7 linked regions of the Homo sapiens genome follow. The protein of the gene in region 1 purifies or fractionates together with the protein of each later gene. This does not show direct contact. Each region holds a gene or a part of one and is shown in the gene's direction. Other genes may lie near its edges.

Region 1 (3,500 bases):
CTTGGTATATTGTCCAAGCTTGTCTTGAACTCCTGGACTCAAGCAATCTTCCCAACTCAGCCTCCCAAAGTGCTGAGATAACAGGCGGGAGCCACCATGCAGGCCTAAAGTTGGTTTTTAGGAGCCATACGCTGAGGTTTCCGTGGTGGCCACCGTAAGTCCATGTCTCCTCTCCACCCAGGGCCTTCACCGCCCTGTGCTACTCTGCAGACGGCCACAGCATCCTGGCGGGAGGCATGTCCAAGTTCGTGTGCATCTACCACGTCCGTGAGCAGATTCTCATGAAGAGGTTCGAGATCTCTTGCAACCTGTCTTTGGACGCCATGGAGGTGAGCCGCCAGCGCGGGGCCGGATGGATGTTGCTTCCAATGCAGGTGGAATGCGTCGGGCTCCTGCGTTCTGCACTCCTGGCTCCATGGGGCCTTGGGCACAGTTGTGGTGCTTGTCCTGTATCTAAGTGCACGGGCCCCTCACCTGCCCCAGCAGAGTCCGGCCGTGAAGCCAGCACCTGCCTCAGCTGTGTGTGGAGCCACGGTCCCCAACCCTTTTGGCATTTGGGACCGGTTTCGTGGAAGGCAATTTTTCCACAGACAGGGTTGGGGGGATTGATTTTGGGATGAAACTGTTTCACCTCAGATCAAGATCACCAGGCATTAGATTCTCAGAAGGAGGGTGCAACCTAGATCCCTCACGTGTCGTTCACAATAGGGTTCGCACTCCTGTGAGAATCTAATGCTGCCACTGATCTGTCAGGAGGCGGAGCTCAGGTGGTGATGCGAGCAATGGGGAGCGGCTGTAAATTCAGATGAAGCTTCACTCATTCACCTGCCCACCACTCACCTCCTGCCGTGCAGCCTGTTTCCTAACAGACCATGGGCCAGTACCAGGGGTTGGGAACCACTGCTGTGGATGACCCTGCCGAGGCTGGTTGCTAGGAGGCTGGAGCTGTGAGGGGCAGTGCCCAGCACACGCTGGCTCAGGAGACACGGACATCTGTCAGGGAAGGAGTGAACGAAGAGGGTGCTGGTAGGCCCTGCCCGATGGCTTCCTGCCCGGGGTCCTGTGTACAAGGCTCTGCCTTCACTGTCCCCACTGGTGCCTGCCCTTCCCCCTCAGCACAGCCCTCGGCTCAGGTCCCACTCACATGCTGGCTCCTGCAGGACCTCAGAATGAGAGTGAGGAAGCCCTGGTAGCCTCTAAGCAGGGGTGTGGCTGCTGGGTTCACCTGTCCACGCCCCATCGGGGCAGAAGCCCACTGTCCCCTAAATGTTTCTGGGGGAAAGTGTCCTTGGCATTTTCACAAGGGAGTAGACGGCCATCCTCGCTGTGAGCCCCAGCCTTTGTGATGGTGGCAGCAATGCCAGCATGTAGACCTCAGTCCATCCCCCTCCGCAGCCTCCGCACCTGCCCTGCTCCACAGCTTCCACACCCACCCTGTCTGCAGCTAGCTCTGCAGGAAGAGTCCCTGGGGCACTGCAGGGCTCTCTCCCCGTCCTTGTTCTAGACAGGGCTGAGGCTTGTCTGGTGTTGGGGTCAAAGAGCAAGGGTAGGAGACGAGGGCCAGGCGGCCAGGCCATCAGAAGCAAGGCGTCCACTGCTTTTGCTGTTCTAGGAATTTTTGAACCGAAGAAAAATGACAGAGTTTGGCAACCTGGCACTAATTGATCAGGATGCTGGGCAGGAGGATGGAGTCGCGATACCACTGCCAGGCGTCAGGAAAGGTGAGCAGAGGTTCCTCCCGCATCTGCCCACCACTCACCGGTCCTGGGTGACCACGCATTCATGCCCCTGGTTGGGGCTGCAGTGTGTGGAAATAACAGTTACTACATGGTGACATTTGCTGGACACTGGGGGTGTCAAAGGCCCAGTGGGTTGGTGCTGGTGCCGTCAGCCCCTGGGCAGGAGAAGCTGCCCATGTGTTGCTACACGTGGCCTCCCTGCCCTGGCGGGACCCGTCCATTTGCTCTTGGGACTGGGTGCCCCGTCTGCTGCACAGCACACGGAGCATTCTGGCGTGAGGCCATGTGCGCCGCACAGAGAGCCAGGTGCTCTAGAAGATCTGGGTCCCAGGTAGACCATCCTGATGGGACACTCGCCAGCCAGAAACCCTGAGTGCTTCCATATGCAGGCCCAGGGTACCGTGTTGAGCACAGCAGACCCACTCCTGGGCTGGGCTGGGGCCCTTTTCTGGGTTGGACACACAGTCTGCTGGCCGGGCTGGCTTTTTTGAGCATCTGCCCCATGGGCTGGGCCATCTGTTTGGCAGCTCACCCGGAACAGCCTCCGCGGCCCCAGCACGGGCCCACCTGCCGCAGCTGCAGCGAGGGAAGGGCTGCTTCTGCCTCCGCTTTGTGCAGGACCCAATGAGTAGAGGCTGCTGCTCTTGATGGGGCTCCCACAGCACCCCCCAGCCAGCCGGGAGACCGCAGGATGACTTGCTTCGTGGGGAGAGCAGCCTGGATATGCTGTCCAGTGATCATTAACGGTTCTTTTTTCCCCAGGTGACATGAGTTCTCGGCACTTCAAACCTGAGATCAGGGTGACCTCACTCCGCTTCTCTCCCACTGGTGAGCACTGAGCCATGGGCTTTTGGTGCCGGTGGGCACTGGGGCATCTGTGCCATAGCAAGGCTGGCCACCATGGAGCTGTCTGCAGGCTCTGGGCTGTGCCCTGTGCCCCTGGGTAAGAACATGGCCCTGCAAACCCTGCAGGCCACAAGATGGCTGTTGTCCCTGAGGATGGATGGCTGTCACGGTGCCAACCTCAGATGCACTGAGCTTTGAAACATGGCAGGCCTGGTATGCCCTTGCTCTAGCAGCTCCCCGAGTGCCCTGGACGTGCTGCCTGGGGGCGGCTCTGCCATCACGGAGAGCCCGTCTCCTGCGCACTGCCCCCATCCTCTCGCAGTGGGGAGGAGGGTCTGTGCCACAGGCCTGTGGAGCCTGGCGGTGCACATGGTCCCCACACAGAGGAGCCAGGAGCAGGGCTATTGGCAAGCGTGCTCCAGCCTAGACTGAGTGTCAGAGCCAGGGGCAGAGAGGCCCATGTGAGCCAGGGGTCTGTGCCCTCGGGCCCAAGGGCCAAATCTGGCTGGCCACCTGCTTTGGTCACTGATGTTTTACTGGGACATTTTACTGGGCGTTTTTTTGTTGGCGGATCCTTCTGGCTGTCTCTAGTGATCCGTGCAGCACTGAGTAGGTGCAGCAGAGACCACAGGGCCTGCGGAGCTGAAGACGCCTGAGCTAGACAGAAGACTTGGCTGGCTCCCGGCGTCAAGAGAGGAGGACGCATGCGTGTACATATTTGCTTATATGTGCATCCCTGGGAGAGTAACTTCTGGGATGATCCATTCATTCCTTCCCAGGGGAGTAGTGGGGTGGGGGCTAGAGGCAGACGTCCCGGTTCCTCCTGATTTTTGCACTTTGTCCCAGGGGAATGTACTTAATACTGTTTCTTTAAAAAAAAAAAAAAAGAAAAAAAATGTTGGGAGGAATGAGCTT
Region 2 (3,500 bases), on another chromosome or scaffold:
CAACATGGTGAAACTTTGTCTCTACTAAAAATACAAAACTTAGCCAGGCATGGTGGCCTGCACCTGTAATCCAGCTACTCGGGCAGCTGAGACAGGAGAATCACTTAAACCCGGAAGGTGGAGGTTGCAGCGAGCTGAGGTCACAGCATTGCATTTCAGCCTGGGCAACAAAGCAAGATTCCATCTCAAAAAAAAAAAAACATTAAAACAAAAATGTCATACCATATTAACTATAATTTTGCAAATTGTGTTTTCTTTTTTTTTTGAGATGGAGTCTTGCTCTGTCGCCCAGGCTGGAGTAGTGGTGCAATCTTGGCTCACTGCGACCTCTGCTTCCCGGGTTCAAGCAATTCTCCTCCTTTAGCCTCCTGAGTAGCTGGGATTACAGGCATGCACCACCACACCTGGCTAATTTTGTATTTTTAGTAGAGACGGTTTCACCATGTTGGTCAGGCTGGTCTTGAACTCCTGACCTGATGATCCACCCGTCTTGGCCTCCGGAAGTGCTGGGATTACAGGCATAAGCCACCACACCCCATTTTGCAAATTTTGTATTCATTGAATTATAGATCATGGATATTTTTTCCATGTGAGTATAAGTACTTCTAACTCATTCTTTAACAGCATCACAAATACTGTGCCCAAAATGACAAGCATTACAAGTAGCAAAATTGAAAAACTGATAAATATATAAGGACCTAACTTGTTTTTTTATCTAAGTAGCAGGTCATTCAGCCTCTGACTGGAGCAGATTTTGGGAATACCCAAAGGCAAGGCCAAAATTTTCCTTAGGAAGTAACTTTGTGTCTGTTAAAATATTTGGATGTATTCCAAGTTAAAGACTTCCAGTTAACCTAGAGAGGGCAGAGGGAATAATTTGTTCCTAGAGACTTGATAGGAAAATCTGCCAGTGTCAAGTTTTCAGGCAAACAATGTATTTAAAATGTATTAAAGGTAGAGAATATTTTAAATGTTTTCTTCTTGGTCTTTACATTTTATATATATATATATACACACATATATATGTACATATACATATACACATGTACATGTACACATATATACATATATACACATACATGTATGTACATATATGTACATATACATATATACACATACATGTGCATATATGTATACATATGTGTATATATGTATACATGTGTGTACATATCTGTATATATACGTATATATGTATACATTTATACGTATATATGTGTATATATGTTGTTTTCAAATCAGTTGATATATGCAAAATTGCTAACAAATGCAAGTTGTATTCGTAACCTAATTTTTAAAGCAATTTTATTCTAGGTGTTACTAAGAGTACTGTATTTGAATATTGATGTTATTCATGAATGCCTCTATTATTTTCAGTTTGTATTCTGTTTCAGTTTTTAAATACTTCTCCTTCAGGGATCTGATGTGATGTATGCAGTTGAAGTTCCTGGACCCCCTACTGTCTTAGCACTACACAATGGAAATGGCGGTAATCAGGATTTTATTTTTCACAAATCAACTATGTGTTTTAATAGTAAGTGAAAATGGGAAATTGTAGAAAGGACATAAACTAGAATTGAGACAGTTGTCTTTCTGGTAACTTGCCAGTAACTAACAGCACGAGTTATTGAACTTTTAATTCTCCGTTTTTTTCTTTTTTGGGGGGCTGGGGGGCAGGGTCTCACTCTGTCTCCCAGGCTGGCGTGCAGTGGTACAATCTCAGCTCACCACGGCCTCGACCTCCCAGGCTCAAGGGATCCTCCCACCTCAGCCTCCCTAGTACTACAGGCGCACACCACCATGCCCGGCTAGGTTTTTGGTATTTTTTATAGAGACAGGGTTTCGCCATGTTGCCCAGGTTAGTCTGGAACTCCTGGGCTCAAGGGATCCTCTCACCTCAGTCTCCCAAAGTGCTGGGATTACAGGCATGAGCCACGGCACCCAACCTAGTTTCTTCATCTTAAAATTATATAATGGGGAAATGTCTTATCTCTTATAGCTATAAAATTGTGTGAATATATAACCATTCTCAACAATTAAGTTTTATATCTTTTTATAGTACTTTTTAAAATGATATTTTTACATAACAACATTTTAATTTTAAAGAGATTACTAATTGTAGGATAAATATAATATGTTGACTTTAATTATAAGTAGGTGACTCTGGAGAAGACCTTTTGTTTGGGACATCAGACGGAAAACTTGCGCTTATACAGATTACTACATCCAAACCAGTACGCAAGTGGGAAATTCAAAATGAGAAAAAGAGAGGAGGTATGCTTTTCATGTAGTTCAGATTCTGAGGTGTCAATGATTATTAAGTATCTTAAATTATATAATTTATTCTATTTTATCTATTTATACTACATAGCAGACTTAGCAATTCACACCTTGATTTATCTACTATTTGTTTATTTGTCAGGTCTATTATACTATTGGCATAATTTTTTAAAAGTAAGAAATGCTGATAGTAATTTGGTATTGATACGTTTTTATAGGCTAATATCATTTTATGCTAAAATCCAATTTTAATTGGATTTTAATTGTCTGAGGTAATTTAGTTGTTTGAGGTACAGAATTAATTGGAATCTGGGAGTCTTTGTTATGAGGCAAAGAAGAAGTGCAGTGGGTCAGAGAATATTCCTGTTTTCTAAGGAATTTATACCTTTCTAAGGAGAATTTATAACTGATTAGGTAGATAGTGAGATGCCTATGTATATGTTCAGGATGTTCATATATTCATTTATTCCTTCAACAAATACTTATTAGGAGAGACAGAGTAAAAACAAATAAATACATAAGACAGCTTTACCTAGTCACCTGAAGAAAATAAAACAGGGCTGTGTATTAGAGAGTGATGGTAGAAGGAGGAGGGTCACTTTTAGACCACGTAGTCAAAGATAGCCTCTTAGAAGAGGTGAAATTTGAACTGAGATCTGATTGATAAGAAAAAGAGTTAGCAATATGAAGATTTGGGGAAAAAAATGTTTCAGGAAGAGGAAAAAGTAAGTGTGAAAGATTTGAGGTGGAGGTAGATTTGATTCATTTGAGGAACAGTAGGAAGGTCAGTCAGTTTGGCTAAATGCGTTAACATGGCAGGAGATGGAGTCAGAGAGGTAGAGTAGAGCCAAATTGTGTAAGCCTTGGAAAACAGTTTGAATTTTAATCTAGGTGCTGTAGGAAGTCATTAGAAAATTGTCAGTGGGAGTGTGACACTTAATTTACTAAGCCTAAACAAAACAAAGGACACTGGAGAATGGATTGGAGGGGGCGGGGGGCAACAGGTCAAAACTGGAAGCATGGAGACCAGTTAGAAGAGTTATTATAATTTATTCTAGTCTAGGCTAGCTTAGTCTAGGCTATCAGTAGCTGGAAACATAGACAATTTCAGTATATATTGTGGAGGTAGAGAAGATGGAATTTGCTAGCAGTTTTGATATGAGGGGTGGTGAGAAAAAGAAAGAAATCAGATGTGGCCCAGAATTTTTGTCTGAGCAGCTAGG
Region 3 (3,500 bases), on another chromosome or scaffold:
ATAATCATGGTGTTTTCCTTTTGTTCTGTAAGTGGGGTTACATTAATTTATTTTTCAGCTGTTAAGGTAATCTCATTCTTGCAGTAAACTGCGATGACATGATACCCTTTAATATATCATTGGTATAGTATTTTGCTTAAGAATTTTCATCTGTCGTGAAATCGGCTTTTTTTTATATATATATAATATTTTTGGTATAGTATTTAAATGTTTAGAAAAATTTATCAGTGAAGCTATCTTGGCCTAAAGGATATTTGTTTGTCCAGCTTTTCTAGTTGTCAACAGAGGAGTTGGTCAGCAACAAACTAATCAGATATCACTGGAAAAAAAATTCCTGAACCAGTGATCATTTGTCTTCAGAGTATATTAAAAGATACGAAGACACTTTTTGTAGCTTTAAATGAGTTTATTTCTCTAGTACGGTAGCAAAAACAAAAGTGTTAATTATATTTTTCTTTCTCTTTTTTCCTCAAAACACCATCCTTTTAATTTCCTTGAATGGATATGAAGGCACCAGTCTGCTGAGTGGCGGTCGTGAATCTGTACTTGTAGAGTGGCGCGATGCAACAGAGAAGAATAAGGAGTTTCTCCCGCGTTTAGGAGCTACTATTGAACATATCTCAGTCTCGCCTGCAGGAGATTTATTCTGCACTTCTCACTCTGATAATAGTAAGTCTAAATTTTTTATTATGAGGAAATATATAAACACCATAAATTAGCTAGCATCTGTAGGGAACAGAGAATAAAGAGACCTAAAACTAAGAGTAGCGTATGAGATTTAATGAGCCTTCTTTTCCTTGCATTACTCCTCTCTTTTCCACCCCTCTCTACCCCTAGGCACCACCAGAATTCAACATTTTTGAGAATTATTTTTATAAAATGGAAGGCTAAGTGTATTTGGTTATTGATGTGCCACTTACATTTTCAAAGTCTTTTAGTGTGGGATGACATGAGGAAATAAAGGGAAGGTTTGGAAGTGGACATTGGTGCTTTCATAAACCTTCCGTTTTCAAAAGAATACTGCAAGATTCTCTTTTGATACAGCTGTTACCTGGGGGCAAGAGTCCTGTAGATTTGATAGAAATAGAGGCAGTCTTATATTTCTCCAAAACTTTGTTCATCCAGTGACTACTCAGCCTAGACTAGGATATCTTTGTAAATCCACTTCCTTTTCTTTCAAAAAAGAACATAACTGTGAGCAGTCCATTTAGTGGCATGAAAAAGTTAAACTATTTTTATTAGATATACTCTATAGATTTTGCATTAACACTTAAAATGTGTTCATAGGCACAACTGATAAAAACTTAAAGACTCCAACAGAAAAGCCCCTATCCCCACCCCTAGATTTTCCACTAACTCACAAAATGTATTCCTGATTTTCTAGTAGTACTCTGAGTTCATTGAACTTACTGGGTTGTTTTGTATTCTGGTATATTTCAGAATATAAACTCAGGTGACTCCTTCACCTTGAAGCTCTAACCCAGGGGTGTCCAATCTTTTGGCTTCCCTGAGCCACATTGGAAAAAGAATTGTCTTGGGCCAGACATAAAATATACTAACACTAATGATAGCTGATGAGCTAAAAATAATAATAATAATAATGTTTTCAGAAAGTTTATGAATTTGTGTTAGGCTGCATAAAAAGCCACCCTGAGCCACAGGTTGGACAAGCTTTCTCTAACCTATTGATATTTAAATACCTATTTTTTTCTACCCACAGAGATAATAATTATTCACCGAAACCTTGAAGCATCCGCAGTAATTCAAGGCCTAGTGAAAGGTATTGCAGAACTCAGTGGATTTGGAATCATGAACATTTTAAAGAGTGCATATTTCTCTTATTTCACCTGTTATTTGTCACCACTTCTGCAGATAGGAGTATCTTCACTGGTTTGATGATTGATCCAAGAACTAAAGCTTTGGTTTTGAATGGAAAACCTGGCCACCTGCAGTTTTATTCTCTCCAGAGTGATAAACAGTTATACAATGTAAGATTTTGATCATTAGCCTTGAAATTAATGAAAGCTCTTTACAGTACCACTGGAGTCAAGCAATTTGTTTAGTAGCTTTTAAAACAAGATCCTGTGCATATGTTTACTTGAACATAGTATTATCCGTGGTTACTTAGTTCAGTTGTTCAGAGCATAATTCCATTGAGGCCACAGTTGCAGGTTACATGTAAGCCAGTTGGCACTCCTGTACGTGCTGTCTCTGTCTTTTGTTTCAGAATGCCCTCCTATTAGCTATCCCATACATCTGTGCTTTTGAGTCACAAGGATAAAGAAACAAAAATAGGTAGATTGACAGTACAAATTTGTATCTGCTTCGTGGTGAAACACTATCATATTCACATATTGAAGATAAAATTTTCAGTGTAGATTAAAGAGGAACACTTCTTCCAATCCTGATAAGTCCAATCCAGATGTCCCACTTTTCTTGTTCCCCACAGTACTCTTTACAGATCTCTGTCATAGCAACTGTGACACTAGCTCTTTCTCACCGTGGCCTTTAGACCCCTCAAAAAAAAGGAAGCATATTAATCATTTTATGCTTATCTCAAGTATAATGCCTGTAAATTGTAGGCATTTAGTACACTTAATAGTAGGCATTTTATTTACTTAGTATAGGCAAGGAAATGGGATTTTTTTTAAAACAACCATAAATAAATGCTGGCCTACTTACATTGGCTATCTTTTTTCATTTCTTAAAGATTGTAGGTTTATTTCTGTTCTGCTTGTTTCTGTTGACAGAGAATCTAGCCTTGAGATGATGTAAAGCTGTTTGTTCTTAGAAACAAAAGAAAAGCACTACTATAAATTAACGGTTCTGTTGTATCATATAGTGGGTGTTAGTAATCGCTAATATTCAAGGTCATTGAAGAATAATTACCACCAAATTGATACTATTATAATGTGTTCCCTTTTTTAATGGCAATTTTGGTGTCCATAGTAACAATTAGTTCATTTTTGCCTTTATTTAAAAATCTATTACTATACAGTACAGAAGTTGTCTTGGATGTAGTTAATTATCATTTCTTGAATGCTGTAACATTTGTGTATTTATGTTAATAAACATTTTGGTTTTTTGGTTTTTTTTACTCATCAGTTAGATATTATACAGCAAGAATATATTAATGATTATGGTCTGATCCAAATTGAACTAACAAAGGCTGCATTTGGCTGCTTTGGTAACTGGCTTGCAACAGTGGAACAGCGGCAAGAAAAGGAAACTGAGCTTGAATTGCAAATGAAACTGTGGATGTATAATAAGAAAACACAAGGGTAATACTATCTGTGTAGCCACTTAATTTCAAAGTATAAAATATTTCACTTCCCATTTTACAGTTTCAATTGTCTTTAAGATGTTTCATCTTGACAAGGTTTAGATTTAGAGATATGGGAGAGGTTTTATTCTAATAAAACCTTTAAGCTTTCTGCTCTGAGAAGACATTGATGTCCTCTAAGTCATAATGTCATCTCATAATGAATAAAGAAACATGG
Region 4 (3,500 bases), on another chromosome or scaffold:
TAGTGGGCGAGTAACCAAGGGCAATGAGAGGGAGGAGACATGAGTTCCCATAGCAAAAAAGGCTCATTGTGATGTGCACAGCACGTCTACTCGCTTTTCAATATATATATGTATATATTTTTGAGACAGAGTCTCACTCTGTCGCCCAGGCTGGAGTGCAGTGGCACAATCTCAGCTCACTGCAACCTCTGCCTCCTGGGTTCAAGCAATTCTCCTGCCTCAGCCTCCCGAGAAGCTAGGATTACAGGCTCCCACCACCATGCCCAGCCAATTTTTGTATTTTTAGTAGAGACAGGGTTTCACCATGTTGACCAGGCTGGTCTCGAACTCCTGACCTCAAATGATCCGCCTGTCTCAGCCTCGCAAAGTGCTGGGATTACAGGTGTGAGCCATCACACCCGGCCTTTTCAAAATATTTCACACCAAATCGGTTTCCAGTTCACTATTTTCATGGCGAAAAGGGCTTTGGCCCCGCCCAATCTCGGAGGTCTCCCTTGGGGAAGAGCAGATTCTTTAAGATGCATACTGAGCCATGTATACGTCATTCTTTTTTTATTTGCATTTTCTATTTTCTTAAACAGAAGACACAGAACATAACTTTTTTCAGAGCTGGATGTGATCTCAAATGGTGATCTTGAGCCGTCTCATTTTTTAGAGAGAAGAAAACTGAGGCACAGACAGCTACCCAGCAAGTCATGGCAGAACCACCTGACTGCCCAGAGCACTTTCTCTTCAGAACTTTTAAATGCAACTCTTTTTGAATACATAATACTTACACATGGTACAAAATTCAAGAAGTCCAAAACAGTGGCCTTCGCCAGATCAATTTCAGTGGATTATTAGAGCCTGAAGCCAAATTATGATAGATTGAAGGGTAAGGGTCTAGAAGGAGGGAAAAGAGTTTCTCTAACTTCGGTGGTAGTGTGATACCTCTCCCTTGGATATTTGCACCATCAGCGCTCTCAGTAGTTGTAGAAAAAAATCTTGGCCCATTGAGAGATTTTAAATTGTTAAGCATATAAAAGAAGTGTGTGAGTTTGTGAGTGTGTGTATGTGCGAATGGCAAGGGAACCTTCCTTGAACTTTCAATGGACACTGCCCAGGTGGCTGCTGTTACTGCTCTTCACAGGGCTGGCGGTCAGTTGTCCAGCAAGTCAGTCCTTCTGCAGACTTCTGAGTGCTGCCATGTATCAGGCACCAAAGTAATTTTAAAAAGAGAAAGATAGGCCAGGCGTGGTGATTCAGGCCTGTAATCCCAGCACTTTGGGAGGCTGAGGCGGGCAGATTGCTTGAGTCAAGCAGTTCAAGACCAGCCTGGTCAACATGGTGAAACCCTGTCTTTACTAAAAATACAAAAATTACCTGGCCGTGGTGATGCATGGCTGTAATCTCAGCTACTCAGGAGGCTGAAGCACGAGAATTGCTTGAACCTGGGAGTTGGAGTTTGCAGTGAGCCGAGATTGCGCCGCTGCACTCCAGCCTGGGTGAAAAAGCGAGACTCCATCCCAAAAAAAAAAAGAAAAAAGATACAGAAGACAGAATCCCACATACAAGGAGCACACGAACTTATTGGGGAAGTAGACATAAAAGAAATGATCATAGTGCAGTCTGAGAATTACTGTTTTTTAAAACTATGTACAAGTTTTACAGAGAGAGGATATATTAGGCTGTTCTTTTTTTTTTTTTTTTTCTTTTCTTTTTGGAAACAAGAGTCTTGCTCTGTTGCCCAGCCTGGAGTGCAGTGGCGCAATCTCGCTCACTACAACCTCCACCTCCCGGGTTCAAGCAATTCTTATGCCTCAGCCTCCCGAGTAGCTGGGATTACAGGCACACACCACCACGCCCGGCTAGTTTTTATATTTTTAGTAAAGATGAGGTTTCACCATGTTTGGTCAGGCCGGTCTCCTGACTTCAAATGATCTGCCCACCTTGGCCTCTCAAAGTGCTAAGATTATAGGCATGAACCACCACTCTGAGCCAGGCTATTTTTGCATTGCTATAAAGGAGTACGAGAGACTGGATAATTTATAAAGAAAAAGAGGTTTAATTGCCTCATGGTTCTGCAGGTTTTACAGAAAGCATGATGCCAGCTACTCAGCTTCTAGGGAGGCTTCAGGACACTTACAATCATGGTAGAAGGTGAAGGGGGAGCAGGCACGTCCTATGTCGAAAGGATCAAGAGAAAGGGAATGGGGAGGTGCTACACACTTTTAAGTCACCAGATCTCACGAGAACTCACTCACTATCTCAAAGACAGTACCAATGGGATAGTGCTAAACCATTCAGGAGAAATCCACCTCCAAGATCTAATAATCACCTCCCACCAGGCCCCACCTCCAACACTGCGGATTACACTTCAACATGAAATTTGTGCAGAATGTCTAAACCATCTCAGGGGGTAACTTCACTCTGTCCAAAAGGCTCAGGGAAGGCTTCAGAGCAGAAGTAATGCTTTGAGGTGAGTCTCGAAGAGCAAACAGGAATTTGCCAGGCAGAGAAAGACCATGCTGTGAGTCAGTCCCGCTTTTCTCCATTAAGTAAACAATTTACTGTTAAAGTTTTCCCCAGAGTAGTAACCACTTACTAAGACAGAGCTGTGAGCTGTTTCTGCTTCTTCTGCAACTCTAATTGTCCCTTGTTTGTAAGTTGAGTACTTTATGAAGCCGCTGCCTTTCTCCATACTGCAAACCCTACAGCACAGCCCCCAAAGGTTGCATAAAACTCAGCGAGCTTACAAGATAATGTTAGGCCATTGGACCCACTCTCTGTTAACAGCCCAGACTTTAAACTTTGCTGACTTGGGCACACGTGGAGGGGCCCTGGGCACTAAGATAGATAAGAAGCCCTTCTGGGATGGGTGCTGAGCTCAGTGTTTAGGGCCTTCACTTCCCCTCTCCTCCTCCATTCCCAGCCCCACACCGCTGTCTTGGTGGATGTCTCAGGCACGGATAAATCAACTTCCATCTCTCCATGACTTTAATTAATGACTCTTTTGTGCTAAGGGTTTTGGCTTCCTCCTTTTTCAGACCACAACATGACAGAACCCATTTTAACTTTAACCTTGCTACATATTTCAGGTGACTCACTGCAGTCTCACTAAATGTGTTACACAGCACTCACACTAAAGATGAAAAATTCCATTAGCTCATCCTGGTTCTTCTGCTTACTTACCTAATCATCTGTTTATGATTTAAAAAAATAGGGTTACTGTGAAGAGAGTGCTTGTGTGTGAGACAGAGAGGGAGGGTTGTTTTTCAAATGTATAGAATATACCAATGTAGTTTTTGGTTGGGTATTTTTTTAAATCATGACTTTATTAAATTTACTTAATTAATATTCATTTTTATCCTTTTTTTATGTTTTTAAAGTTTTTATTATTTATTAATTTATTTGAGATAAGGTCTTGCTCTGTCACCCAGGCTGGAGTGCAGTGGTGCAATCACGGCTCATACAGCCTTGACCTTCCAGACTCAAATGATTGTCCCACCTCACCTTCCCGA
Region 5 (3,500 bases), on another chromosome or scaffold:
TTTTAGTTCTTGGGCTTCATAGTGGATTTATGAGAGCTTGTTGTATTATTAAAGTATTACTTTAATGGAGTCACATGGATTAAAGTTCTCTGAATAGTGCCTGGTCCCCAACAGGTATTCGGCAAACATTTGTGGCATTTTATGCCGACTCAAAAGTGATAGCTGGAGGATACATTAGGAAGGACTCTTCTAGTGGCAAGTGGCAGAAATCCAGGGTAAACTGACTTAAACAACAAAAAATTGTTCAGTTAGCTGGGAGAGTCAAGGGGTGATATGAGCTTCAGTAATGGCCGGATCCCAGGCCTCAAGCAGTGTCAGCAGGATGCTGCCTCTCTGCTGTCTCTGCTTTGTTTTCTTGACTTCCTTCTCAAGCAGGCTCTCTCTCTCCATACAAGGCCACCAGGAGTCCCAGGCTTTTGCCTTCTGTGGGCTTAGTGATCATTCACTAAGTGATAGTTCTGGCAGACATCTTGATGATGTCACTGATCAGGTCTGGCTCATCTTTTGAGCTGAGATCAGGCAGGTGGAGGGGGAAGTCCTAGTCAACCCACACAGATGATTCCCCAGAGAAGAGATATTATTTTATCAGAAGAAAAATGCTGGACAAGCAAAACAACAGATATCTAGTATAGAGAAACTTCAAATTTCCCTCCTATTGAATGAGGACTATATAATGAGAATGGAAGAGATTTGAGAATCAGAAAAATCATAGTTTGAATGCAACATTTTTCTGTGTCTTTATAGATACCGGGACTACCGTGACCCGCCTCATTCACTGGTGCCCTATGGCTACACACTGCAGTTTTGGCATGTCCTAGCTGCTCGATTAGCTTTTATCATTGTCTTTGAGGTAAGTTTCCTCAGCCAAATTCTTTATTTCCTTTGACATAATGAAGTCAGTAGGAGTAATGAATAAAAATAAGTGATGGGGATTTTGAATGTGATTATCTATATTTCCAGAAGTAGTAGTGTCATATTATGTAACCTCTTTTTGATCTTTTTTCTTAATTGAAGTATTTGATTTTTCCAAGACATATTTGAAAGTCCATAGTTGGTTTTTAATGGACAAATCTGAACTCGTTGCTCCTAAATGTAATTTTCTGGGGCCATAGTTCTTAAACTTTAGCAAAAATGCAGTTTTTCCATCCTCACTCCCAGATATTCTGACATACCATGTCTGTGGCTTGTTTTTCATGAGCTCGTTGTAATGATTCTGACTATAGGCATTCTGGGACCATAATTTGGAAACATTTGGAAAACATCAGCCCAGTAAGATTCATTCTTTTTTTCTTTTTCTTTTTCAACTTTTATTTTAGATACAGTGGGTACATGTGCAAGTTTGTTACAAAGTTACATTGCATGATGTTGAGGTTTGGGGTGCGACTGAACCCACCACCCAGGTAGCGAGCATAGTATTCAATAGGTAGTTATTCAGCCCTTGTCCCCTCCCCCTCTCCCCTCTATAGTAGTCCCCAGTGTCTGTTGTTCTCATCTTTATGTCCATGTGTACCCAGTGTTTAGCTTCCACTCTAAGTACGTACAATAAGAACTTGCAGTGTTTAGTTTTCAGTTTCTACATTATTTCACTTAAGATAATGGCCTCCAGCTACATCCATGTTGCTGCAAAGGACATGGTTTCATTCTTTTTTATGGCCACATAGTATTCCATGGTGTATACATACCACATTTTCTCTATCTGGTCCACCATTGATGGGCACCCAGGTTGATTCCATGTCTTTGCTATTGTGAATAGTCCTGTGATTGACATATGAGTACATGTGTCTTTTTGGTAGAATGCTTTATTTTCTTTTGAGTATATACCCAGAAATGGGATTGCTGGGTTGAATGGTAGTTAAGCCCTTTGTTCTTTGAGAAATCTCCAGACTACACAGTAGTTGGACTAATTTACCTTTCCACCAACAGTGTGCAGGTGTCCCCTTTTCTCTGAAGCCTCGCCAGCATCTGTTAATTTGTTTACTTTTTTTTTTTTTTTTTTTTTTTTTTTAAGACTGATTCTCTCTCTGTCGCCCAGGCTGGAGTGCAATGGCACAATCTCGGCTCACTGCAACCTCTGCCTCCCAGGTTCAAGTAATTCTCTGCCTCAGCCTCCTGAGTAGGTGGGATTACAGGCACCCGCTACCACACCTGGCTAATTTTTGTATTTTTAGTGGAGACGGGGTTTCACTGTCTTGGCCAGGCTGGTCTTAACCTGACCTCATGATCCATCCGCCTTGGCCTCCCAAAGTGCTGGGATTACAGGCGTGAGCCACTGCACTTGGCCTGACTTTCTAATAAAAGCCGTACTGACTGGTGTGAGATGGTGTCTCATTGTGGTTTTGATTTGCATTTCTCTAATTTCCTTAGAGATTCTGAGCATTTTTTCATATTATTGTTGTCTGCTTCTATATCTTCTTTTGAGAAGTATCTGTTTGTGTCCTTTGACCACTTTTTAATGGGGTTATTTGTTTTTTACATGTTGATTTGTTTAAGTTCCTTACAGATTCTGGGTATTAGACCTTTATTGGGTGCATAGTTTGCAAATATTTTCTCCCATTCTGTACGGTGTCTGTTTACTTCTTTGACAGTTTCTCTTGCTGTGCAGAAGCTCTTTAATTAGATTTGACTTAGCAATTTTTGTTTTTGTTGCAATTGCTTTTCAGGACTTCACCATAAATTCTTTGCCCAGGCCAGTATTGAGAAGGGTATTTCCTAGGTTTTCTTCTAGCATTTTTATAGTTGAGGTCTTACATGTAAGTCTTTAATTCATCTTGAGTTAAATTTTGTTTATGATGATAGGTAGAAGTCCAGTTTCATTCTTCTGCATATGGATAGCCAGTTATCTCAGCACCATTTATTGAACAAGGAATCCTTCCCCCACTGCTTGTTTTTGTCAAGTTGGAGATTCACTCTTTCTAAATGTCTCCAATTATTGCCATCATCATTACCACACATATTGAAATATACTGATTCATATAGTTAATTTATGATTTTCAAATAGTTATCAGGATTTCCCAACATGATCATAAGCATTTTCCAATAGGACTGGGTATTACAAGTGGTATTTCTGGTTGTGTATCATCACGGAATTATTTATATTCAAGCATCCAAGTAAGTATTTATTAGCTAAGACTCAAAATGGAATTATAAAGTAAAATCTGTCTAGCAATTGTCTATATTATATGTCAATAAAAATATATTATCTATTTTCTTTCAGGGTTTAAGAAAATTGCTGTAAAAATAGTTTGCATTTCTATGACTCTAGTCATAAGTGGAAATTTCATCTCTTGTCACATATATTAAAGCCAGATTAATAAAAGCCAAGGTTGCCTCTCGGCTTGGATCTAAAGTTTCCTAGACCTCTTCAAGACTATTCTATCACTGCTTTTTCCTTCAGTCCAGGGAACCAAAAGAAGAAAATATTAAGCTGCTCTTCCCTGGAAATTATCTTACCAATGGCACACTCTCTCTTTAAAGAAGATATTTTTAACCCATCACTGTCT
Region 6 (3,500 bases), on another chromosome or scaffold:
GAGGGAGAACTGCTGTTAGCATGTTGTCACACTTCTGTCTCAGTCTCCTCTTTGCTGTATACAGTAGCTAAGAGAATACAGTGTTTGAAGTCAGATCTCGATTTGCCTCCTCTTTTGGCCAGTTTCTAATTGACCATGGGCAGTTTGGAACCTACATTTTTTCCTTTGTGAAATGGGCACAATGATAGTAACTACATCAGAATTTTGTTGGGATTAAACAAAATAGTACTTGTAGAACTTTTAGCACAGTGCCTGAAACTGAGTAAAGGCTAAAAAGAAGGTAGCTCACACCATAGGAACTGTCATGGATGAGAATGTACTGTATGCTTGATTTAACATTTTGACTTTTTCTACATAAAGTTACTTTGTAAACATTTCTCCCTACTTAAAAAAAATAGACATTTTAAAATGGCTATGTTGGAGTCAATTATGTGAATTAACCATAATTTACGTGGCTATTGTTGGGTAGATTTTCTTTTTCCCTTTTTTTTTTTTTAATTATTTTTTTTGAAACAGAGTCTTGCTGTTTCACCTAGGCTGGAGTGCAGTGGTGCGATCTTGGTTCACTGCAACCTCTGCCTCCTGGGTTCAAGCGATTCTCCTGCCTCAGCCTCCCGAGTAGCTGTGACTACAGGCGTGTGCCACCACACCTGGCTAATTTTTGTATTTTTAGTAGAGACAGAGTTAGACGGAGTTTTGCTACGTTGGCCAGGCTGGTCTTGAACTCCTGACCTCAAGTATACACCCGTCTCTGCCTCCCAAAGTGCTGAGATTACAGGCGTGAACTGCTGTGCCCAGCCTTATTTTTCCCTTTAATGCAGATTATTTCAGCATTAATGTTTATCACCTCTTTATGTATAAACCTTTCTTTATTTTCTAATTTATTGCCTTAAGAAAGATTCTTTGAGGTAGAATTACTTAATCAAAGAGCACAGTTATTTTTAAGGTTCTTGATAAGTACTGCCAGACTGCATGCTATGGGGCTCTACCAGTTTGCCTTCCCATTGAAAGGTGTCAGTTTCAGTCCATTCTTAGACACAATGGTTTATTTGTTTTTTTTTTCCAGACTCTGTCAGTTTGGTAGTGGGTAATATCTCTACCTAGTTTGTTTTGAGGAAGTGTTTTTGTGTTTAGTCATTGTCTTCTTTTTTTTTTTTTTGAGACTCTCATCCTTTCATCCAGGCTGGAGTTCAGTGGCGCGATCTTGGCTCACTGCAACCTCCGCCTCCCAGGTTCAAGCGATTCTCCTGCTTCAGCCTCCCAAGTAGCTGGGACTACAGGCACATGTCACCATGCCCAGCTAATTTTTGTATTTTTAGTAGAGACGGGGTTTTACCATGTTGGCCAGGCTGGTCTCGAACTGTTGACCTCAAGTGACCTGTTTGCCTCGGCCTCCTAAAGTGCTGGGGTTACAGACATGAGCAACCACACCTGGCCTCGTTTCTTATAAATATTCTTTATTATGTCCTTGTCTATTGGAGACTTTTTAAATAATCTTGGTATATTAGTTCCTGACATATTGAGAATTTCAAACCTTTATATGTTAGATTTATTGTAGGTTTTCCCCAGCTTTCTGTGCATAGAAGTTTTGAATTTTTATATAGTCAAATCTGTGAATCTTTTCCTTCATTATTTTTACTGCTTTTTTAATAGTAAGTAGTTAACAGAGAGAGACAAATGTTTATCTATATTTTTACTTCATAGTATTTTAAGGTTTGCTCTTTTTTTTTTTTTTGAGATGGAGTTTTGCTCTTCTTGCCTGGGCTAGAGTGTAGTGGTGCGATCTTGGCTCACTGCAGCTTCTGCTTCCCAGGTTCAAGTGATTCACCTGCCTCAGCCTCCTGAGTAGATGGGATTACAGGCTCCTGCCACCACGCTGGACTAATTTTGTGTTTTTAGTAGAGGCAGGGTTCCACCACGTTGGCCAGGCTGGTCTCGAGCTCCCGACCTTCAGTGATCCGCCTGTGTCTGCCTCCCAAAGTGCTGGGATTGCAGGCATGAGCCACCGTGCCCGGCCTTTTTTTTTTTTTTTTTTTTTGAGACAGTCTCACTCTTTTGCCCAGGCTGGAGTACAGTGCCACAATCTGGGCTCATTTCAACCTCTGCCTCCTGGGTTCAAGTGGTTCTTCTGCCTCAGCCTCCTGAGTAGCTGGGATTACAGGTGTGTGCCACCCCGCCCAGCTAATTTCTGTATTTTTAGTAGAGATGGTGTTTCACCACGTTGGCCAAGATGGTCTGGATCTCTTGACCTCGTGATCCACCTGCCTCAGCCTCTCAAAGTGCTGGGATTACAGGCGTGAGCCACCACGCTGGGCCTAAGGTTTGCTCTTTATGTATTTAACTCTTTGATTTACTTGGGGTTTATTTTGGAGAATTTCATAAACTGTGTGCAGATAAGTCATGATGAATTTTCTCAAATAGTAGCTCTCCAAAGTGTAAACCAGATGATCTGAAATGTTGGCAACTACTTTTTTGTTCTTTTAGGAAGAACAGAGAAGATGCATTTGAAATGTTCACATCTTAAAAATCTTGACCTATATTGTTTCATTAAACATTTTTCTCCAAGTGCTAAAAGCAGCAGCTATTTATATTAACTCTTTAAAAGTTATTTAAAATATGCTGTTCTGTTTTTGTAGGGTTGACATGATGAACAATCGGTTTCGGAAGGATATGATGAAAAATGCTAGTGAAAGTAAACTTTCGAAAGACAACCTTAAAAAGAGACTTAAAGAAGAGTAAGTGTCTTTTTTCATATGATTTACCAAGAGGTGTATGTAACCAATGCCCAGTCATTAACCGTAACCGCTTCTTGTGTAGTTTTCCATTTTGAAACAGTAAGAGGATTGCTATTGTGGGCAGTGACTAAATTTCTGTAGTTTTTTTTAGGGGAGAGGGGACAAAACACAGACACAAAGAAAATTTGGAAAAAAATTCTTACCACTCAAATATAATCAGTGATAATATTGCTTACTTGTTCATTTGCATATGGTACACCATAATTTTATAATATGAACATTTTCAAAAATTTAAATGGCCACCACCTGGGTTCAATGGTTTTTAACATTTTGTCATATTTGCTTTGTGTATTTGGGGGATGTGTGTGCTTTCCCAATGTATTTGAGAGTAAGGTACAGATAATGCGACACTTAACTCATTAATTTGTCAATGTGCATCTCTTAAGATTAAGGATGTTTTCCTTCATATTCACAATACCATTGTCATACCTAAGAAAATTAACAGTTTACGGCTAGTCCATGTTAGTTTCTCCAATTGTTGTAAGGTGCATACATTTTATTTGGATTTTATGTCCTTTAAATTTATATATTTTTTTGAGGTAGGATCTCACTCTGTCACCCAGGCTGAAATGGAGTGGTGCTGTCATGGCTCATTGCAACCTCTATCTCCTGGGCTCCCCATAGCTGGGACTACAGGCATGTACCACCTTAATTTTTAAAATTTTTTTGTAGGAATGGGGTTTCACTATGTTGCTCAGGCTGGTC
Region 7 (3,500 bases), on another chromosome or scaffold:
GAAAGACATTTGATAAAATTCAATATTCATTTCTAATTTTTTTTTTCACTCCTAGCGGAATATAAATACATTTAAGCCAAAAACTGCCATCATGCATGATGCATGCATCATTCTAGAAACATCCCTTTAAGATCAGGAATAAGACAAGATGTCCAGTATTACAATTACCACTGTTGATTAACATTCTTTTAGACGCATAGGCCAGTGTAACTACAAAAGATAAAGATAAGAGATGAGGAAAACTGCCAGGTGCGGTGGCTCATGCCTGTAATCCCAACACTTTGGGAGACCAAGGCAGGAGGATTGCTTGAGCTCAGGAGTTCGAGACCAGCCTGGGCAACATGGTAAGACCTCGTCTCTACAAAAAATACAAAAATTAGTCAGGCGTGGTTGCACGCGCCTGTGGTCCCAGTTATTTGGGAGTCCAAGGTAAGAGGATTGCTTGAGCCTAGGAGGTGGAGGTTGCAGTGAGCTGAGATCACGCAACTGCTCTCCAGCCTAGGCAACTGAGCGAGACTGTCTCAAAAAAAAAAAAAAAAAAAAAAGATTAGGAATACTGCAGATGTATTTATATTCCACTAAGAGTGAAAAATGAAAGTGTTGGTATTTGGAGAGGAAACCGAATGGATAAACTGAATTGATATTAGGAAAATAAGAGAATTCTGTAAGGTAGCTGAAAAGGCTGGCATTTTATACACTGAAGTCATCATTGTTGTCTTTTAAAAGTTAGAGATAATGGCCAGGCATGGTGGCTCACGCCTGTAATCCCAGCACTTGGTGAAACCCCGTCTCTACTAAAAAATACAAAAATTAGCCGGGCGTGGTGGCACACGCCTGTAATTCCAGCTACTCGGGAGGCTGAGGCAGGAGAATTGCTCAGGAGACGGAGGTTGCAGTGAGCTGAGATCACACCACTGCACTCCAGCCTAGGCGACAGAGCGAGACTCTGCTTCAAAAAAATTTTAAAAAAAGAAGTTAGAGTAAGAATTTGAGTTTGGAGTCAAAAGGGTCAGACTCCATCAGATACTAATATTCTAATCAAAGAATTACTTGACTTGCGAATAGATAGATCACTTGAATAGAATAGAGCCCAGAAACAAACTCAAAAGCTTCTGGGGGCGTTTAGTATATTATAAACATGGCATTTTAAATTAATCAGGAAAAGAAATTGTTTGCAGCTCACCCCACCATAGGCAGCAGAAATAGGAAGTCATCGACAGAATAAAAAGATGGCAAGAACAGAATCGTAGAACAGTACGTTTCTTGCTTTCCCACTTTTTAAATTATTTTTTGCTTTTACACAAATATAAGATTTTATTTTCTAAATGTATACTAGTTATTTTATCTCTTTCTTAGATGAATGAAAAAATTGCATCTTTAGAAAAAGAGTTGTTAGAAAAAAAGCCGTGGCAGCTTCAGGGGGAAGTGACAGCACAGAAGAGGCCAGAGAACAGCCTCCTGGAGGAGACCCTACACTTTGACCATGCTGTCCGGATGGGTATGGTGCCCTCTTCTGTAGTTTTCATGTCTGTGCTTTTTCCATGGTTCCATTTCATACAAAGATTTGGGGTGGTGTTTCTTTTCCCTCAACTTTTTATTTTAAAAACTTGTAAACACATGGCTTGGCATGGTAGCTCACACCTGTAATCCCGGCACTTTGGGAGGCCGAGGCAGACGGATCACCTGAGGTCAGGAGTTTGAGACCAGCCTGGCCAACATGGTGAAACCCCGTCTCTACTAAAAATACAAAAATCAGCCAGATACGGTGGCAGATTTCAGAATCCCATCTACTCGGAAGGCTGAGGCAGGAGAATTGCTTGAACCCAGAAAGGGGAGGTTGCAGTGAGCCAAGGTTGTGCCAGTGTGCTCCAGCGTGGGCAGCCTGGGCAACAGAGCGACACTCTGTCAAAAAAGAAAAAATCAACTTATAAACACAGAAGAGTTGAAAAAATACTACAGTGAACACCTATATGCTATTCAATTGGATTCACCAGTTACCATTTTGTTATATTTGCTTTCTCTCCCTAGCATATGTAAGATTGTATATGTGCCCTTTTTTTAAGTAAGTTGCCAATCTCATGGCACTTCACTTTTAAGTACTTTTGCAGATATCGTCTAAGAACTAGGACATTCTCCTATGTAATCACAGTACCATTAATCCACCCAAAAAATTTAACAATACGCTAATGATACCTAATGTATAGTTTGTAATCAGCTTTCTTGTAGTAATCTGTTTTGAAGGCTTGCATCCTGTCATGGTCCACTGATTAAATTTTGAACTTCAACCTGAAACTGTGGTCATCTCATTGACTTCTTTCTTGTACCCATTACATCAAAATGAGTTTTCATTTTATTTCAATGGAAGAGAGAATGGAAAAGAGGGGAAGAGTCCCTGGGTACCTTGGGTAAAGTATTAGCACTTACTACCATATGTATCCTAGTTTTGTGGTTTTCAAACTTCAGGGAGCATCACAAGGCTTGTTAAAGCACAGATAGCTGTCCCTCTTCCCCACTTTCTGATTCAGGAAGTATGGGGGTGGCCCAGGAATTTGCATTTCTAACAAGTTCCCACGTGTTGCTGATGCTGTGGGTCCAAGGACTGCACTGAATCAATGGTCTAGTGGATATCTACCTAATGAATAAACGTTGTATATCCTTTAGCACCTGTGATTACAGAGGAAACCACCCTTCAACTGGAAGATATCATTAAACAGAGGATAAGAGATCAGGTCAGTAAGAATTAAATTTAACTTAATCAAAATGTCACCAAGATTTTTAGAAATAATGTGAGAGTACTTTGAGAGTAGGACTATTGCTTTTTATTTTCACTTAGTGTTCACAAACCTTAAATCTAGGCTACCTAGTCAGCTTTTGTTGTGTGAGGTACTGCTCTTCAGTAGTATCCAGGAAAGACGAGTATTGTGCCTGAGAGGAGCAAGAAGCCATTATCCTTTCTCGTGAGTCTTGCTGACCTTTTGGGCGGTGCTCAGTGAAGCTGGTGGCTGACCTGTGATGGTTGCACCCAGAACCCTTGGCTTAGGCACAGTATCTGGTGTGGTAAATTATTCAGTATATATGTCCTAGTCTTTTTTCTGTTACTTATAACAGAATATCTGAAGCTGGGTGACTTAAAAGGAATACAGTTATGGAGGCTGAGAAGTCCAAGGTCGAGGGGCCTTCTTACCAGTGGGGATTCCGCAGAGTCCCAAGGTGGTGCAGGGCATCACATGGTGAAAGGGCTGAGCATGCTAAGATGCTGGCTCAGGTGTCTCTTGCTCTTCTTAAGAGCCACCATTCCCCCACTGATGATAACCCATTAATCCATAAATGCAACTGCCATTCATGAGGGCAAAACCCTGGTGATCCAGTCACGTCCTAGAAGGCCCCACATCTGAGTGTTGCCACATCAGGGATTAAGTTTCCACATGAGTTTTGGAGGGGACATTCAAACCCTAGCATTGTGGTAGTTCTACAATTTTAAAACCATTTCTCAATGGTGT

What was found.
Region 2: the proteins of PWP2 (region 1) and BBS7 purify together in Homo sapiens (affinity purification with mass spectrometry; 2 studies listed by BioGRID and IntAct, with this or other methods). This does not show direct contact.
Region 3: the proteins of PWP2 (region 1) and WDR75 purify together in Homo sapiens (affinity purification with mass spectrometry; one large-scale study listed by BioGRID and IntAct). This does not show direct contact.
Region 4: the proteins of PWP2 (region 1) and ENOSF1 purify together in Homo sapiens (affinity purification with mass spectrometry; one large-scale study listed by BioGRID and IntAct). This does not show direct contact.
Region 5: the proteins of PWP2 (region 1) and ANO4 purify together in Homo sapiens (affinity purification with mass spectrometry; one large-scale study listed by BioGRID and IntAct). This does not show direct contact.
Region 6: the proteins of PWP2 (region 1) and UTP18 purify together in Homo sapiens (affinity purification with mass spectrometry; one large-scale study listed by BioGRID and IntAct). This does not show direct contact.
Region 7: the proteins of PWP2 (region 1) and MPHOSPH10 fractionate together in Homo sapiens (co-fractionation; one large-scale study listed by BioGRID). This does not show direct contact.

The regions. Positions count from the first base shown.
Region 1 is NC_000021.9:44,124,399-44,127,898, forward strand, and holds part of PWP2 (periodic tryptophan protein 2 homolog), read left to right. Parts: intron 1-181; coding exon 182-329; intron 330-1,612; coding exon 1,613-1,721; intron 1,722-2,501; coding exon 2,502-2,567; intron 2,568-3,500. UniProt on the Homo sapiens protein: Part of the small subunit (SSU) processome, first precursor of the small eukaryotic ribosomal subunit.
Region 2 is NC_000004.12:121,853,475-121,856,974, reverse strand, and holds part of BBS7 (BBSome complex member BBS7), read left to right. Parts: intron 1-1,413; coding exon 1,414-1,486; coding exon of another isoform or gene 1,487-1,531; intron 1,532-2,151; coding exon of another isoform or gene 2,152-2,154; coding exon 2,155-2,271; intron 2,272-3,500.
Region 3 is NC_000002.12:189,461,974-189,465,473, forward strand, and holds part of WDR75 (WD repeat-containing protein 75), read left to right. Parts: intron 1-510; coding exon 511-669; intron 670-1,720; coding exon 1,721-1,780; intron 1,781-1,872; coding exon 1,873-1,988; intron 1,989-3,105; coding exon 3,106-3,281; intron 3,282-3,500. UniProt on the Homo sapiens protein: Ribosome biogenesis factor. Part of the small subunit (SSU) processome, first precursor of the small eukaryotic ribosomal subunit.
Region 4 is NC_000018.10:702,631-706,130, reverse strand, and holds part of ENOSF1 (mitochondrial enolase superfamily member 1), read left to right. Parts: intron 1-3,500. UniProt on the Homo sapiens protein: Plays a role in the catabolism of L-fucose, a sugar that is part of the carbohydrates that are attached to cellular glycoproteins.
Region 5 is NC_000012.12:101,119,776-101,123,275, forward strand, and holds part of ANO4 (anoctamin-4), read left to right. Parts: intron 1-744; coding exon 745-850; intron 851-3,500. UniProt on the Homo sapiens protein: Has calcium-dependent phospholipid scramblase activity; scrambles phosphatidylserine, phosphatidylcholine and galactosylceramide. Does not exhibit calcium-activated chloride channel (CaCC) activity.
Region 6 is NC_000017.11:51,263,546-51,267,045, forward strand, and holds part of UTP18 (U3 small nucleolar RNA-associated protein 18 homolog), read left to right. Parts: intron 1-2,636; coding exon 2,637-2,735; intron 2,736-3,500. UniProt on the Homo sapiens protein: Part of the small subunit (SSU) processome, first precursor of the small eukaryotic ribosomal subunit.
Region 7 is NC_000002.12:71,137,134-71,140,633, forward strand, and holds part of MPHOSPH10 (U3 small nucleolar ribonucleoprotein protein MPP10), read left to right. Parts: intron 1-1,356; coding exon 1,357-1,498; intron 1,499-2,661; coding exon 2,662-2,729; intron 2,730-3,500. UniProt on the Homo sapiens protein: Component of the 60-80S U3 small nucleolar ribonucleoprotein (U3 snoRNP). Required for the early cleavages during pre-18S ribosomal RNA processing. Part of the small subunit (SSU) processome, first precursor of the small eukaryotic ribosomal subunit.